Regions from separate parts of the Homo sapiens genome. Here region 2 is linked to region 1. The links come from fine-mapping of genetic effects on gene expression. A gene starts in region 1. The other region holds a variant in brackets. All regions are shown on one strand. Distances are from middle to middle.

Region 1 (8,576 bases):
TCTGCAGGCAGCGGGGCTGCCCTCTCCCCGCCCCAAGGCAGGCCACGCTCATTTCTCTTTCCCCTTGTACTCGTAGCCTCCAGAGGTGAAGTCCCCAGTGGAGCCTATGGCTACTCTTACATGCCCAGCGGGGCCTATGTCTATCCCCCGCCAGTCGCCAATGGAATGTACCCCTGCCCTCCTGGCTACCCCTATCCACCGCCCCCACCTGGTGAGTGTGTCCTTTGCTGCCCCCACTCCCCTCATGAGCCCACCTACCCAGGCTCCCCCCAGGCCAGGGAGACTTTATTCCTTGAGCTGCTTCAGGACCAACGAAGGAGCTGGAGAGGCCCCCCTCACCCGGGAGGGGGCCGCAGCCGGGTGCTCACCATGTCCTTGTTACTCTCTCACCGAGCAGAGTTCTATCCAGGACCCCCCATGATGGACGGGGCCATGGGATACGTGCAGCCCCCACCACCGCCCTACCCTGGGCCCATGGAACCTCCGGTCAGCGGCCCCGATGTCCCCTCCACTCCTGCAGGTGAGGGCCCTTGGGTGCTGGCAGCCCTTCGGGACCAGCCCTCTCCTCCCCGATGTCGCACAGAGAGCCTCAGAATGGCCAGAGACTGCTGAGAGCCGCAGATGATGGATGACCCCTGGACTACCCCAGGGGCCCAGCAGGGCTGTGGCCTGGTGGAGCGGAGCTAGATTCTGGCCCCACCCCCATCCCTTAGCTATCCATGTGCCCTGGGCGGGGAAGGTCACCCTGTGTGCCTCTCGATCCTCTCATCTACACTCAGCTGGTCGGTCACAGTGGCACCTGGGGCATTGGCTCAAGGATTAGATGAGGTGAGACATGCGATGGGCCTGGAAAGGACCGTGCCAGCGCGTGGCATGTGCTCAGGAAACCTCACCTGCTGCTCTCATTGGTGGAACTGGACCCCCAGCACCAGCTGCCCCGAGCCATGGGGGCCCGGGGTCTCTTAGCTGAGCTCAGGGGGAGGAGAACTTGTCACCGACACCAGGTGTGTTTGCTCTCACAGCCGAAGCCAAGGCCGCAGAAGCAGCCGCCAGCGCCTATTACAACCCAGGCAATCCTCACAACGTCTACATGCCCACGGTGAGAGGGCTTGGCAGTGCCGGTGCAGCCCCACAGCCGCAGATGCTGGGAGCCGCAGGGGGATGACCGCACCATGTTTTAAACCTTCTAATGCAAGTCTCTCCTTTCTCCCTTCTTTAGAGCCAGCCGCCGCCACCTCCCTACTACCCACCGGAAGATAAGAAGACCCAGTAGGCCCTCCTGCCTCCCTGCCTCCCACCCTCATCTCTCTACCCTACCCCTCCCATCGGGGCTGTGCTGGGGCTTGGGGAGGGGAGGGGGCGCCTTGTTCTCCCTCCAGGTCTGATCATAAACAATTACCAGGAACTAGCATTGTGGGACATTAGGGCCCCCGGCCTCGGGAGAGGTGCCGCCCAGCTTCCCATGCCAGCCCGGAGCCCACAGTGCTGCCCAGCGTACCTCCCTCACCGTCTGGGGCTCTTCTGGGAGCACGGAGCATCCCCTGTTCCTGTTTCACTCTCAGCTTCTCCCCTCGAAGGGACTCTCTGGCCACCTCCTCCACCGCAGTCCAGCTCCCTCAGTCTGGCACCCACTGCTACACTCAGCCTCATGAGCCACTTCAGACCAGCCAGGTGTCTTCCCGGGCCCTGCCAGACCCTGCTCACATTCCCTCTGCTGGTCTGTGCTGGTCTCAGAAGGCCACCGCGCCCGCATTCCACTCAGCCAGGGTCCAGCTGCAGCCCCCGCCACCCTTCCTTCCCTTCCCTGTCCTGGGTCATGTTGTTGCCACCCTGTGTGACTTTTGAAGCTGTAAAATGAGCTTCCAGGGCTTGGGTGGCGTCGGGGCAGGGCCGCCGAGGCTGGGAGGAAGCCCTTCTGCCTTTTGCTGGTGTTTCTGGAATTTGCTTTCCCTCACCTCTCACTTCCTTCTAGAAGGAGCTTCCTGACTGGAACCAGAGAATGCATGTCTGTCCACTTGGTGGCTGCTGGGTGGGGCCGGGAACAAGGGCCCCTGACCCTGTGTGCTGGCCGGGACCTGCCACCAGCCCCCCAGCCTGCTTCTTCCCCTTAAGCTTTGTGCCCCTGGATGCGCTAACATTCACTCTTGTTTGTCCCTGGACTGGCCATGAAGTGAGGAGATGGTTATTTAAAGAGAATTCCCTATTTATTTGACAAAAAATCCAGTTAATATATTAATGTGAAATAAACCCTGTTTGCACCTCGATTTGTTTGCTGAAAATGTGAAATAGTAAAAATGAAATAACTGGACCCTTTCTGGCTCTGCGTGTGGTGACCCGGGGGTCTCTTCCGGAAGGAGAGCCGTCTGGCCGCTGAGGGCCCTGGAGACTTCTGGGACGGTTCCCTCCCATGGGAGGATCCCCATTCTCACGGCCCAGCCAGCCTGTCTGGTCCCCAAGACAGCTCTGGCCTCTGGAGCTGGTTCTTAACGGTTGTCGCTCAGCAGCTGTGTCCCTCCCCCACTGAGTCCCCAGGGCCTGGCTGGGACAGAGGTGGATGTGGCCCAGAGTTGGCCTTGAAGGGAGGAGTTGGGGCTGCCACCTTGTCCCCTGCTGGCTCCTCGAGGAATGGCAGCCCTGGCCTAAGTCCTGGTTGCTGGAGGGAGGAGGCCGAGTCAGCCCTGGAGCACGTCAGGACCTGTGACAGGGACACTGAGGTAGCCAAGCCGGCTTGCCACCACCCACGTCACGTGCCCTGCTGTGAACTTGAAGGGACAGGAGGGTGGGAAATGGCCAAAGGCCGTGACCAGGCCCACACGCCCGCAAGTCCCCCAGCCCAGCACTGGGCACAGGGTGGGCAGGCCACAGAGCTCTAGGAAAGCCCCATGCTGAGGCGCATTTTCCTGTCCCCCGGGAGCCAAGTCTGTCCTCAGGAGAGATCGGGCAGCAGCCCCTCTGCCTCCTCCTCCTGGCCAGCCTGGCCCAGAGCTCTCTGGGACTTGGCTAAGCCCCCTTCAAGGGTGTCTGAAGGGAGCACTGTCCTGACTGCCAAGGTGGGGGCAGGGGCACAGGGCTGTCCCTGCCCAGCACAGCTTGGCCCCGTCATCTCCAAGGAATGTCACCTGTGGGGCCAGGCAGGCTGAGCAACTGGCTGTCCTCCAGGGAGACGCCTCTTGGGAGCCCCCACCCTGGGCGCCACCACACCCCACCCCACCCCGCCCCGCCCCACGTCTGGACGCACTCGAGGAAGTGGGGTGAGAACCCCCCCGGGCCCAGGTCAGCTTCTCTCAGGGTTCAGCCCAGCCTGGGCACAGCACATGGATGGGGCAGGATGCTGCCCGCCTGTTCTGGGCCCCCCCGCCCCCTGCTGAGAGCGTTGTCCCCTTCCCAGGGCCTCTGTAGGAGGGTGGGGCGGGGCCAGGCCTGCCCACGGGGTCCACCTTCTGCTCCAGCCAGAGGAGGGTCCTGTAGGGATCCCAGCTGGGGAAGGTGCAGGGGGCCTGGGAGACTGCCTCTCCGAAGCGGTGAAACCCTCACCCTTCCGTCCCTCCCAGCCACCCTCCCTAAAACTTCCCCTGACAGAGGGTGGCAGCCCCAGGCTCTTTGCATAATCCTGTGGCTTCGCTGTCTTCACCCAGCACCAGCGGACAGGGAAGGGCAGAGAAGGCCACCATGGCGACACTCCTCTCCCATCCGCAGCAGCGCCCTCCCTTCTTGCGCCAGGCCATCAAGATAAGGCGCCGCAGAGTCAGAGATCTACAGGATCCCCCGCCCCAAATGGCCCCGGAGGTAGGAGTGACCTCACTGGGGAGAGAGCTGGCCTTGGGGAGCACTGTGGTCTCGGGTACGGGTGCCCTGCTGTCTGGCCCCACCTCTCGAAGGCTGGGACTGGGGACCAGCGACCCTCCCCTGCCTACTCCACCCTGGGGAGAGCCCCCTGGGCCAGCAGAGCAGGGGCTGCCAGATGGACTCTGGGCCACTGTGGGCCTCAGGCCCTGTGGTCTGAGGCTCTCAGAACCCCTCCCTCCCGGTTGGCCTGACCCCATCCCCTACTCCTCCAGCTTCAGAAGAGCCGACTCCATTAGGTGGGGGTGTCCCTGCTGTGGGGTGAGCTGTTCGGGGAGCAGCAGACCCCCAGGCCGACGTGGCACCCCCCTCACCTCCGCTGCCGAGCCTCACTTCCGCTGCTGGGTGAGGAGCAGCCGCCACTGATAAGCAGAGCTGTTTCCTCTGGGGAAGGGAGGGAGGTGGGGTGCGGGTGCGGAGGGCTCGCGCTGCTGGGCACCCATGGACCTCAGCCACGGCGGGCCCAGGGACGGACCTCCAGGAGGCCTGCTGGGGGAACAGGTGCGGGGCATCACTGGGGCTGGAGGCCGGGGTGCTGGGGCCCCCATACCCTTGGCCTGGATCAGGCCTCAGAGGAGCCATTCCTGTCCATCTGAGCCTGCTCTGGGCCTCCCGGGACACTGCCTTTCCACCTTGCTCTGCAGATCCAGCCTCCATCCCACCACTTCTCCCCCGAGCAGGTAAGAGTCAGAGTGCTGGGGTGCAGAGAGGTGGGGAGGGCGGCTGTGTGTCCTCCTGCCGGCCGACGCTGATGGCAGCAAGCAACTTGCGGTGGGGAGGGGACTCCTGGGTCTCAACTCCCTCCGCTGCACAAGCCGCCCTTGTCCTGCCCATGGCGAGAGGTGTTGGTGCCAGGGGTGGCTGGTGGGGTCCCCAAGGTGACCCCGTGTGTCTTAGCGGGCCCTGCTCTACGAGGACGCACTCTACACTGTCTTGCACCGCCTGGGTCATCCTGAGCCCAACCATGTGACGGAGGCCTCTGAGCTGCTGCGATACCTGCAGGAGGTGAGCCCGGCTCCCACCCCACCCCCCTTCCTGCAGCTGCCCTGTCTGGTGCCCCCAGCCACCCACCCGCCTGCCTCCCCACCAGGCCTTCCACGTGGAGCCCGAGGAGCACCAGCAGACACTGCAGCGGGTCAGGGAGCTTGAGGTAACCTGGGGCCAGGGTCCCCCTGGGCAAGGAGGGGCCTGGGAAGCCCAGCCCCCTCAGGGACTCAGGCCATCCCTCCTGTCCCTCCAGAAGCCAATATTTTGTCTGAAGGCAACAGTGAAACAGGCCAAGGGCATTCTGGGCAAAGATGTCAGTGGTGAGCATGGGGTGGGGTCCCCAAGGGGCTTCTTCCTGGCTCCTTCCTCTCCCATCACAGCCTGGCCCAGGACTCTTGGCGGGAGCACCCACTTCCAAGAAGCCCTGTAGCGCTGGCCCCCCATGCTGCTGGTCCCCTTCCCTCTCCCCCGGAGGAGGCTCAGCCCCGGGCGGGGGTGATGAGGGCCTCTCCCAGGGACCCAGCCGACTCCCTGGCTGCCTCGTCTTCCCCACTCCTCCACAGGGTTCAGCGACCCCTACTGCCTGCTGGGCATTGAGCAGGGGGTAGGTGTGCCAGGGGGCAGCCCCGGGTCCCGGCATCGGCAGAAGGCTGTGGTGAGGCACACCATCCCCGAGGAGGAGACCCACCGCACGCAGGTCATCACCCAGACACTCAACCCCGTCTGGGACGAGACCTTCATCCTGTACGTGGCCGTGCTCCAGCCCCCACTCTATCCAGGTCTTTCCTGGGTAGCAGGGTCTGCCCCAGACAATGAGATGAGTAGGTCGTCCTGGCTCAGGGGAGGGGGTTTGGCCCTGGGCAAAGACTAGAGGAGAAGCCCATCTCCAGGCACGTTAGGTGGACAGTAGGTCAGATGGGACAGAACAAGATCAATGCCACACGTGCTGATGGGGCAAGGAGGGTCAGGCCCTTGTGGGTGAGTCTGGGGGTGCCTGAAGCTGTACCTGAAAGGAGGCAGGGATGGGTGCAGTGGTTCCCACCTGTAATCCCAGCACTTTGGGAGGCCAGGAGACTGAGACCAGCCTGGCCAACATGGCAAAACCCCATCTCTACTAAAAATACAAAAAAGGCCGGGCGTGGTGGCTCACGCCTATAATCCCAGCATTTTGGGAGGCTGAGGAGGGCAGATCATGAGGTCAGGAGATTGAGACCATCCTGGCTAACACGGTGAAACCCCGTCTCTACTAAAATACAAAAAATTAGCCGGGCGTGGTGGCAGGCGCCTGTAGTCCCAGCTACTCGGAAGGCTGAGGCAGGGGAATCGCTTGAACCTGGGAGGCGGAGGTTGCAGTGAGCCGAGATAGCACCACTGCACTCCAGCCTGGTGACAGAGCGACACTCTGTCTCAAAAAAAAAAAAAAAAATTAGTGGGGGCCAGGCGCAGGGACTCATGCCTGTAATCCCAGCACTTTTGGGAGGCCGAGGCAGGTGGATCACCTGAGGTCAGGAGTTTGAGACCAGCCTGGCCAACACAATGAAGGCCCACCTCTCCTAAAAGTACAAAAATTAGCCGGGCGTGGAGGTGCATGCCTGTAATCCCAGCTACTTAAGAGGCTGAGGCAGGAGAATCACTTGAACCCGGGAGGCGGAGGTTGCAGTGAGCCGAGATCACGCCACTGCACTCCAGCCTGGGTGACAGAGTGAGACTCTGTCTCAAAAAAAAAAAAAAAAAGGCTGGGCGCGGTGGCTCACGCTTGTAATCCCAGCACTTTGGGAGGCCTAGGCGGGCGGATCACGAGGTCAGAAGCTCAAGACCAGTGTGGCCAACACAGTGAAACCCCGTCTCTACTAAAAATACAAAAATTAGCCAGGTGTGGTGGCGGGCACCTGTAATCCCAGCTACTTGGAAGGCTGAGGCAGGAAAATTGCTTGAACCCAGGAGGCAGAGGTTGCAGTGAGTTAGATCCTGCCACTGCACTCCTCCAGCCTGGGGGACAGAACTAGACTCCATCTCAAAAAAAAAAAAAAAAAAAAAAAAAGGGATGCGGCTGGGAGGAGGGAAGTTTGGCAGGGATAGGCTACAACTCCATGGCTCTGGGCTGTGGTCACTTACTGCTTCGTCTGGGGGCATCCACCCTCCAGGGCCCTCAACCACGCCCTTTTCTCCATACAGGGAGTTTGAGGACATCACCAATGCGAGCTTTCATCTGGACATGTGGTGAGTGACCTGGCCTGCCCCTAGGGATGGGAAGGGAAGGGATCTGGGGTGAGAGAGGCGGAACCTCCTCCTGGAAGAGGTCGTAGGCACTCTCTCTGCTTCCTTCTCAAACCTCTGTCCTGCCAGGGACCTGGACACTGTGGAGTCTGTCCGACAGAAGCTTGGGGAGCTCACGGATCTGCATGGGCTTCGCAGGTTCGTGTTGCAGGGCTCACAGGGAAGGGGTTGGGGCTCCTTTTGCCCTCCATCCCCCAACATGCACACTGGATGCTGGGGTGCAGGCTCCTTTGGGGTCCAGGTGGCTGCGGCCGGGGGTGGATTCCAGCCTAATCCCTTCCGACCCTTGCTGCGTCCCCCTTATGGGACCCTGCCTGACGCAGGATCTTTAAAGAGGCCCGGAAGGACAAAGGCCAGGACGACTTTCTGGGGAACGTGGTTCTGAGGCTGCAGGTGAGGAGGATGAGGAAAGGGGCCCAGGAGCGAGGCAGAGGGAGGGGGTTGGGAGGGGTTCTGGGGAGAGGCTCTGTGTCCTCACAAAGCTGAGCCTGGGGTCCACCTCCTGTCGCCTCCGCTGCCCCGACTCTATGAGGTTCTGACGCTCACGGGCTGGGCATCCCCGCCTGTCAGGACCTGCGCTGCCGAGAGGACCAGTGGTACCCCCTGGAACCCCGCACTGAGACCTACCCAGACCGAGGCCAGTGCCACCTCCAGTTCCAACTCATCCATAAGCGGGTAGGTCGGGTACTGGGCCAGTGGCCATGCCCAGCTCTTGCGGCGGTCTGCTGGGTTGCGGGGCTGGCTGCACCCAGTGTGAGGCCCTGTCTGCTCACAGAGGCCTCATTGCAGAGAGCCACTTCGGCCAGCCGCTCGCAGCCGAGCTACACCGTGCACCTCCACCTCCTGCAGCAGCTTGTGTCCCACGAGGTCACCCAGCACGAGGTATTGCCCTCCTGGGGCTGGGCGCAGCCGGGGCTGCCCTTCAGGTCCTGACACTCCTCCACCTGCTCCCCTCAGGCGGGAAGCACCTCCTGGGACGGGTCGCTGAGTCCCCAGGCTGCCACCGTCCTCTTTCTGCACGCCACACAGAAGGACCTATCCGACTTCCACCAGTCCATGGCGTGAGTACACAGCCCTGGGCAGAACCCCTGAGCCACCAGCCCCCCACGCCCCCTGCCCTCCTCCAAGCCGGTAGCCCAAAGTGTAATTCTCAGCAGAGTTCCCTTTGGCCCAAAATGTGTGTTTTAAGTTTTGAATCAGTTGCCAATTTTAAAAAGTCTAGAGATTCGGCTGATGCGGTGGCTCACTCCTGTAATCCCAGGACTTTGGGAGGCTGAGGCAGGAGGATCACTTGAGCCCAGGATTTCAAGGCTGCAGTGAGCTATGATCACACCAACACTCCTGCCCGGATCACAGAGTGAGACCTCATTTCCAAAAAATATTAGAAAAAGCTATCTGGAGATTTGACATACCATCCAGATCTCCAGCTTCTCATGAAACACAAGTGCTGGAACTGCAGGGTCATCATT
Region 2 (8,576 bases), 76 kb before region 1:
GTGATGGAAGTCAAGGTCTCTGTACTTCGTGGTGTTCTACAGACAGCACGTGGCCTGCCACCTGAGCCGGTCCAGGAGCCACTGCTCACTGGGCCTCAGCTGACTGTGCAGGGTCCCTGGGCATCGTGACGCCCAGCTGCAGGCTGCTAGGGGGCCACTGGGACTGGCTGTTTCCCCTGCCTGACACCCTCCTTTCTGTCTTGAAGTAGGTTCTTCGCAGACAGTGGCGCAGACCCCAAGGGAGAACCAGGCTCCAAACAGAGCCCTCCAATGGCTTCCAGCCCCATCCAGCCCAGGAAGGGAGGAGCTGACTGGTTGGGCCTCAAGGACGAGGACTTGGACCTGTTCCCTGCCTCACCCACCAGAGAGGCCCATCGGGAAAGTTCAGTGCCTGTCACGCCCTCAGTGCCTCCTCCTGCGAGCCAGCACTCCACGCCAGCTGGGCTGCCCCCCTCCAGGGCAAAGCCACCAACTGAAGGTGCAGGGTCCCCTGCCAAAGCCAGCCAGGCTTCCAAGCTGCGAGCCTCCAAGGAGGAGAAAGAGGACTGGCTGAGCCATGCCCTGTCTCGGAAGAAGTCCCAAGGCCTGGCCAGAGAGCAGCATGCTGGGACCTCTGAGGGCCTGCATTTGGCGGGGACAGCGGGCCATCCCCCTTCTGGCAGGTACTGACTTAGGCTGCTGTGGCTAGTAGGGGGAGGACTGGCTGGGGACTTGAGGAGCCCCTTTGCCCCTTCACCTGTTGCAGCCTCAGTCAGCAGTTGGGGAACAAGGCAGGGCGCCGTGGCCACAGAGGCCGCTTCTTGGCTTTGCTACTCTGCCTTTTAGGCACTGCAGAGAGAGCCTCTGGCTCCCAGGCTTGCCCCAGGGACATACCCAAGAAGGAGGGCTGTTGACATTCATGCCCTGACCGCCATGGGGACAGGTGCTAACTTGATCGAGGAGAAGACAGAGGGTCCCTGAGGTGGCAGACACACCGCTGCCCTGTCACAGCGCCCTCAGGCTGGAAGCCCCGGCATCCAAACAGCCGGTGCTTCTGCCGACTCCACTGAAGCGAGTATGGCGTGTGTGAGCTGAGATGTCCCTGTGCTCTTTGAGAGTGTTAGAGGAGACATAGTGGCCGAGAGGCGCCTCTTGGAGAAGCCCTTATCCGTGGGGCAGGATAGCGAGTGACCTCTGAAGGCAGGAAGGCACAAGGGGCCAGCAGGCTGGGGGAGTCCAGAGGAAGTGGTGAGATGTGCTGTGGCCAGAGCCCAGGGGAGTGAACTGGGCAATTTGTGACAGCCCAGGGACATCACCCTGTCCTGGGGTTGATGACAGGAGGGCAGTTTTGACTTTGACCTGAGGCCGAGGGGAAAGCTCAGGCCAAAACAGAAAAGAGCCTGTCTCTTCACTGACCCGTGAGCCGAGAAAGAGGTGGAAATAATGGGAAAGGGAGCCAGCCAGATTTGGTAGACTGAGCAGAATCCTAATCTAGAGCTGAGCCAAGTTAAGTGGACTGGAACAGGGCTCTGAACTTGAACTTGACTCCAGTGTCTATAACATTTCCGTTGTCACTGCTTGGACAGTGTCCATTCACTGCACCACTGTGGACATTGAGGCAGGAAGGGGGTACTGGAAGGGAAGAGATGCCCAGAAATCCCAGGAGCTCAGACGTGGGAGGAGAATGCCCCAAGACGGGATGGTGGAAGCAGGAGGAAGGGGGGCCACGAGCTTCACGTGTGAAGCCCGTCCTGGGCCCTGTCTTCATCCAGCCTGACCTGGGCCTTCTGTCACCTTCACCTTGAACGCTGCCTTTCCTCAGCCAACCTCTCACCAGCACACAAGGGCTTGAGCACGCAGCTGCTGGAGGGAGTTCTGGAACAACTGCACGAGAAAGACCGTGTGTCAGGCCTGGTGTCTCGGGGTAGGCCTGGGCTGCGGGCTGAGTGGGAATGAGAGCATGGTGGGCAGCACAGGCCTCTGTCCTGAGAGAGGGACACAGAGGCTGTTCACCCTGCCCCTGCCCCGTCCCCGTGTCCCACACAGAGGCTGCCCACCCTGCTCCGTCCCTGTGCCCTACACAGAGGCTGCCCACCCTGCCCCATCCCCGTGTCCCACCTAGAGGCTGCCCACCCTGCCCCGTCCCCGTGTCCCAGCAGAGGCTGCCCACCCTGCCCCATCCCCGTGTCCCACGTAGAGGCTGCCCACCCTGCCCCGTCCCCATGTCCCACCTAGAGGCTGCCCACCCTGCCCCGTCCCCGTGTCCCACACAGAGGCTGCTCACCATGCCCCATCCCTGTGTCCTCAGGTCCCCTGTGACTCAGAACCATGCCGCCTCAGCACTCCCTACAGGTTCCCCAAAGAGGGGAACAGCCCCTGGAGACCTCTCAGCCACTGGTTTGTTTTTTGTTTGCTGCTTCATTTGGGAGTTTAACCCTGGGTGAGGAAGAGGTGCTTTGAGCTTCCTTTGGGGTCCCTGGGACATGAGTTACACCAGCCCCTCCTGGACACTCGCAGGCCCAGTGCCCTGGGCCTCCTGTTCATTTCTCTGTTGTTGATGTTTCAGAGCCTGCCACGTGTTTCCCGAGCACCCAGAAACCCACAGAGCCTTCCGTGCCCGTCCAGGTAGGGGTGTGGGCAGACAGGTCTAGCTCAGGGCCTAGGGAGCAATTCTCCATGCCCAGGGGCAATACCCACAGTTTGACCTGACGACCTGCCAGGAAAAATGTGTCAAACATACCAAATGTGACGTCAGCCAGCTCCCCGGGCACCCCCCACTAGAACTTGCCTGAATTTCTAGCCTCGCTGCTCCTGGGCAGAGCTGGGTGTTAATTTGCCTACATCAGTGGGGAGTTTAAGGAGGCAGCCAGGCCGGGGAGCTGGGATGCTGCAGTCAGAAAGCAGGGCCGCAGGGTCCTGTTCTGTCAAGAAAGCCTCCTCCACCCTTGCCATCCTCCCACCACACCTCTGCCTCTGTTTCCCATGTGTGGCAGTCACCTGTGACACCTGGGCCTGGGAGGTGTGCCCCCCCCCCCCCCAGGAGTGTGTCCCTGGGAGATGGTGGGTAGGGGACAGCTCGTGGGAACCAGATTAGTGTCAACATGTGGGCTTCAGGCCTGACAGGAAAAGCCAGCATCAGCTTTTGTCATAGCGAAGACTCTGCTGGGGTTCAGCCATTTGTCTGGGAAGCCGGAGACCATGCTGGGGAGGAAGCTGTTCCGGAGGGTGGAGGGAGACATGCTCCTGACCAGATCTGCAAGGGGAGGTACACTGGGGACTGCTTAGCCGCAGTGACTGTTACTTTCCAAGGCCTTGGCCCCATCTGCAGCCACAGATCAGATGCAGGGAGGTCCAGTGAGCAGTGGGCCAGGAGGTAGCTGATCTCAGCTGGGCCCCTGTCCCCTCCCTAACTAGAAACACCTCTCTTCCTCTCCTCCAGCCCCTGCTCCCAGAGTCCCTGGCCCGGAGCCTGCTGCCGAGCACAGAATACCAGAAGCAGCTCCTGGCAGCACAGGTGCAACTTCAGTGCAGCCCCGCTGAGCTCCAGGCCGAGCTGCTGCATAGCCAGGCCCGGCTGGCAGAGCTGGAGGCCCAGGTGAGGGGCAGCGGGGCCGTTGGTGCTGGTGGCAGGGTTGCGACAGGAGGGGACACTGAGAGTGGCTGGAAGCTTCCCCAGGAGGGAGGAAGGGCTGTTGGCACAGGGCAGCGTGGAGTACAGCCACCTCCCCTCCCTGGTTGCTGGCCCTCCTGCTGTCTCCCAGGTGCGGAAGCTGGAGCTAGAACGGGCCCAGCATGAGCTGCTGCTGGGGAGTCTGCAGCAGCAGCACCAGGCAGACCTGGAGCTCATCGAGAGTGCACACAGGTACCCTGGCGCTGGCCCCAGCTCTGCCTTGGATCTCACACTGACCCCAAAGGCCACCCAGTGTGCCTGGAGAGGCCTTTAGGCGGCAGCCCTCTGCCTTCCTTGCGCCATGGCTGGGTGTTCTGTTGGCAGAAGCCGCATCAAGGTGCTAGAAACATCGTACCAGCAACGGGAGGAGCGGCTCCGGAGAGAGAACGAAGAGCTGTCAGCTCGGTATCTGTCGCAGTGCCAGGA[G/A]GCCGAACAGGCCCGTGCTGAGCTTACGGCCCAGCACCAGCGGCGCTTGGCGGCCATAGCGCAGGAGAAGGACCAGGAAATGGAGCGGCTCCGGGAGCTGCAGCGGTGAGGCCCAGGGACAGGCAGCTGGGGAGCAGGCTTGCAAGGAGTAGCCGGAAGAGAGCCATCCCCACGAGACCCTTCGCTGTGGCTCAGCAGCCTTTGGACAGGGGTTGGGTCCTTCCCTCCCAGTCCAGTGAGTGAGGACTGAGGGCTGAGCACACTGACCCATCACACCCATGGGTGGGGGTGCCACCTGCTCTTACAGAGGCAGGAGGGGGTACCCACAGGCTGTTCAGGCATGGCATGGCAGCAGCAAGCCGCCTAGGGTCTAACTAAGCACAGGGTCATCCACTCGCCTGCTCATGCAGTAGAGGCTAGAAACAAGATCCACCTGGGAAAGGCTTGCGCTGTTGTGCCTGCCATGTTTATAGGGTTGCCTTTCTAGAAGAGAAGGAAACTAAGAAAAGTTACCTAAGGGAGTCAGAGGTCGATGAAGGCAGAGGCAGCCTTTTAAGACTGCTCAGGGCCGGGTGCAGTGGCTCACACCTGTAATCCCAGCACTTTGGGAGGCCGAGGTGGGAGGATCACTTGAGGCCAGGAGTTTGAGACCAGTCTGGGCAACACAGTGAGACCTCATCTCTAAAAACAATTTTTAAATAAGCTGGCATGACAGCTACTCCTGTAGTTCCAGCTACTTGGGAAACTGAGGCAGGAGGATACCTTCAGCCCAAGAGATCAGGGCTGCAATGAGCTATGATGCCACTGCACTCCAGCCTGGACCACAGAACAAAACCCTGTCTCTAAAAACATTTAAAAAACAAAACACTTGGGAGGCCAAGGCAGGAGGATTGCTTGAGGCTAGGAGTTCAAGACCAGCCTGGGCAACATAGTGAGACCTCATCTCTAGGAAAAAAAAAAAAAAAAAGAAAGACTGCTTGGGGCCGGGCGTGGTGGCTCACACCTGTAATCCCAGTGCTTTGGGAGGCCAAGGTGGGTAGATTGCCTGAGCTCAGAAGTTCGAGACCAGCCTGGGCAACACGGTGGAAACCCCATCTCTACTAAAATATAAAAAATTAGGCGTGGTGAGCGCCTATAGTCCCAGCCACTCGGGAGGCTGAGGCAGGAGAATTGCTTGAACCCAGGAGGCAGAGGTTGCAGTGAGCCGAGATCATGCCACTGAACTCCAGCCTGGGCGACAGAGTGAGAGACTCTGGGTGACAGAGCAAAACTCCATCTCCAAAAAAAGAAAAGCTGAATAATGGGAGGAATGCCCATCTTAGTGCGTGTAGCATTGAGGCACCATGACAGATAAGACAGAGGAGCTGGGGAAACTGAGGCAGTGCCCGGCGGAGGAGAGGCCTGGGAGCAAGGGCTGCACGGAAACACACCCTTCCACAAGGAGTTACCGCATCAGGGTGATCCAGCTCAGAGTGACCGCCTTCCCCTCCCGCCTCCCCTCAGGGCGTCCATCCTAGACATGCGCAGAGACCACGAGGAGCAGCTGCAGCGGCTAAAGCTGCTGAAGGACCGAGAGGTCGATGCGGCCACCAGTGCCACCTCCCACACGCGGTATGTGCGCTGCCCCAACCATGCCCGCCTGACGTTGGGGGCCGGAAGGTCCCCGAGACCGTCAGGAGGGGGTGACCCAGTCTTCTTCCAGGTCCCTGAATAGCATCATCCACCAGATGGAGAAGTTCTCCAGCAGCCTGCACGAGTTGTCCTCCCGCGTGGAGGCCTCGCACCTCACCACCTCCCAGGAGCGGGAGCTGGGGATCCGGCAGCGTGACGAGCAGCTGCGGGGTACGCCCTCCCCTCTCAGCCACCCCGGCTCCTGGTGGGAAGGGGGAGCAGCTGCTGAGCACCCTGTGGGTTGCCCCCAGCACTGCAGGAGCGGCTGGGCCAGCAGCAGCGGGACATGGAGGAGGAGCGGAGCCGGCAACAGGAGGTCATCGGGAAGATGGAGGCACGGCTGAATGAGCAGAGCCGGCTGCTGGAGCAGGTGAGGCCCGTCCTCCTGGCCCTCCTGCCCCTCCTGCCACGGGGCCTCTTCTCCAGGGCACCCGCAAGTGTAGCGGCACTCCCGTGACCTCACTTCCTCAGGAGGTCAAGGCCCCACCTGCCGCTTCCTGCCTCTACATCTCCCTGCCCTGGCCAGGCTCTCAGCACTGCCCACCTGAGCATGCAGGGGCCGCCTGGCCAGGCCCCCCACCACGCCCTGTCCGCTCCTCAGCACCGCAAGCCCCTCGGCCACCTTGGCTGCCCTCCGCAGTCTAGCCCCCGCAACCATCAGCTGCACTTCCCACTTCCTGACACTCGAATCTGTCACATTAGCTGAGGCCTGACATTGGGACAGATGCTCTTGCCCATTAAATGTCATCCTAGCCTCTTCAGCTCTCACAGAGACATTTGAATTCCCTAGATACCTTTCATATATAAGCACATGCTTTATTTAAATAATGATGACCTTAGCCAGGCACAGTGGCCTGTGCCTATAATCCCAGCTACTTGGGGGGCTGAGGCAGCAGGATCACTTAAGGCCCAGAATTTGAGACCAGCCTAGCGAGACCATAAATAAATTTTTTTATGCCAGGCAAGTTGGCTCATGCCTGTAATTCCAGCACTTCAGGAGTCCAAGGCTGGAGGATCACTTGAGGTCAGGAGTTCGAGACCAGCCTGGCCAACATGGTGAAACTAAAAATAAAGAAATAAGAAACTAGCCAGGCGTGGTGGCGCACGCCTGTAATCCCAGCTACTAGAGAGGCTGAGGTGGGAGAATCGCTTGAATCTAGGACACAGAGGCTGCAGTGAGTGGAGATCATAACATGGCACACCAGTCTGGTTAACAGAGCGAGACTCTGTCTCAAAAAAATAAATAATAAAAACATTTAAATTTTGTTTTAATTAACTGGGTGTGGTGGTGCACACCTGCAGTCCCTGCCTTTGCTCACATCCTTTTCCTTACCTGTGGAAATCTTTCTAGGCTGAATTCAATGGTAATGAATCTTTCGATGCTACCACCTCCACAAAGCCTTCCTTGTCCTCCCACCTATCTTTTTGTCCTCAGCTAGTAGTTATCATCTTCTAAGGTTTTACAAAGCACTGTTATTTTTTAGAGACAGGGTCTTGCTCTGTTGCCCAGGCTGGAGTGCAGTGGTGTGATCATAGCTCACTGCAGCCTGACCTCCTTGGCTTAAGCCATCCTCCTGCCTCAGCTTCCTGAGTAGCTGGGACTACAGGCGCAAACCACCACACCCAGCTAATTGTGTATTTTTTACTGAGATGTGGGTCTTGCCATGTTGCCCAGGCTGGTCTTGAACTCCTGGGCTCAAGCAATCTGCCCACTTAGGCCTCCCAACATTTTGAGAGTACAGGTGGGAGCCACCATGCCTGGCCAAAAAAAAAAATTTTTTTTAGAGATGGGGTCTCACTGTCACTCAGGCTGGAGTGCAGTGGCAAGATCTCAGCCCACTGCAGCTTGAACCTCCTGGGCTCAAGCAATCTTCCCACCTCAGCTGCCAAGTAGCTGGGATCACAGGTGCATGCCACTATACCCAGCTAATTTTTTGTATTTTTTGTAGAAACGGGGGTTTGCCATGTTGCCCAGGCTGATCTCAAACTCCTGAGCTCAGACAAGCTGCCCACTTTGGCCTCCCAAAGTGCAGGGATTACAGGCGTGAGCCACCATGCCCAGCCAAAAACTTTTTTTTTTTTTTTTTTTTTTTTGAGTCAGAGTCTCGCTCTGTCACCCAGGCTGTAGTGTAGTGGCGCAATCTCAGCTCACTGCAAACTTCGCCTCCTGGGTTCAAGGGATTCTCCTGCCTCAGCCTCCTGAGCTACTGGGATTACAGGCAACTGCCACCACGCCCAGCTAATTTTTGTATTTTTAGTAGAGATGGGTTTCACCACGTTGGCCAGGCTGGTCTTGAACTCCTGACCTCAGGTGATCCACCCGTCTCAGCCTCCCAAAGTGCTGGGATTATAGGGCTGAGCCACTGTGCCCGGCCCAAAAAAATGTTTTTAAAGAAGAAAATAAAAATATCCCACTAGTCAGAGATGTCCACTGCTGACCTGATATCTATCCTGTAGCCATGTCAACGTAGATAGAGATGCTTTTATGTTGTGAAGCATTTTGATTCGCCTCTTCATTTGGTAACTGTGTTAAGCATCTGCCTGGGGTCAGGCACAGTGAAGCTCTCGCCTTGTGCTGTGTGTGGCTGGGCCCACAGCACAGCATTAAGCCACCCTGTGCTTAGCCTGCTTGGCTGATGGGTGAGGACAGGCAGAGTGCGTAGCTGGCGATTCAGCGGCAGGGATGTTGCTGCTCTTTGGCCCTCCCAAGCTGCTAGCCTTGGTGCTGTTGGAGACCTGAGGGTTGGGAGGGCACCTGCTGGGTCCTTCTCTTGGGCAGAATCGTGCGGGCTGGGCCCTGGCAGTGCCTCCCAGGCACCCCTCATTTTGT

What was found. PIP is the estimated chance that this variant, and not a neighbour inherited with it, causes the effect.
Region 2: its variant is fine-mapped to the expression of UNC13D in whole blood (INTERVAL, PIP 0.98).

Annotation. Positions count from the first base shown.
Region 1 is chr17:75,839,431-75,848,006 of GRCh38, reverse strand. UNC13D (unc-13 homolog D) reads left to right here and starts at 3,603. Exons shown (of 32, transcript NM_199242.3): 1 at 3,603-3,786; 2 at 4,488-4,523; 3 at 4,741-4,848; 4 at 4,934-4,993; 5 at 5,084-5,150; 6 at 5,394-5,574; 7 at 7,006-7,050; 8 at 7,177-7,245; 9 at 7,431-7,500; 10 at 7,678-7,782; 11 at 7,897-7,989; 12 at 8,065-8,168. The coding sequence starts at 3,670. It overlaps WBP2 (WW domain binding protein 2), which reads left to right. Exons shown (of 8, transcript NM_012478.4): 5 at 77-211; 6 at 398-520; 7 at 1,023-1,099; 8 at 1,220-2,308. The coding sequence ends at 1,273. RefSeq lists enhancers at 2,664-2,753, 2,884-2,963, 3,382-4,086 and silencers at 3,194-3,353, 3,364-3,423, 4,274-4,333.
Region 2 is chr17:75,915,272-75,923,847 of GRCh38, reverse strand. FBF1 (Fas binding factor 1) reads left to right here. Exons shown (of 30, transcript NM_001319193.2): 14 at 207-662; 15 at 1,802-1,903; 16 at 2,288-2,376; 17 at 2,546-2,604; 18 at 3,419-3,574; 19 at 3,741-3,841; 20 at 3,974-4,180; 21 at 5,579-5,686; 22 at 5,778-5,917; 23 at 5,998-6,116. Among named protein-coding and RNA genes, the nearest start is that of MRPL38, 15 kb to the right of the region's middle. RefSeq lists an enhancer at 1,542-2,741. The variant G/A (reference allele first, on the strand shown) is at 4,076.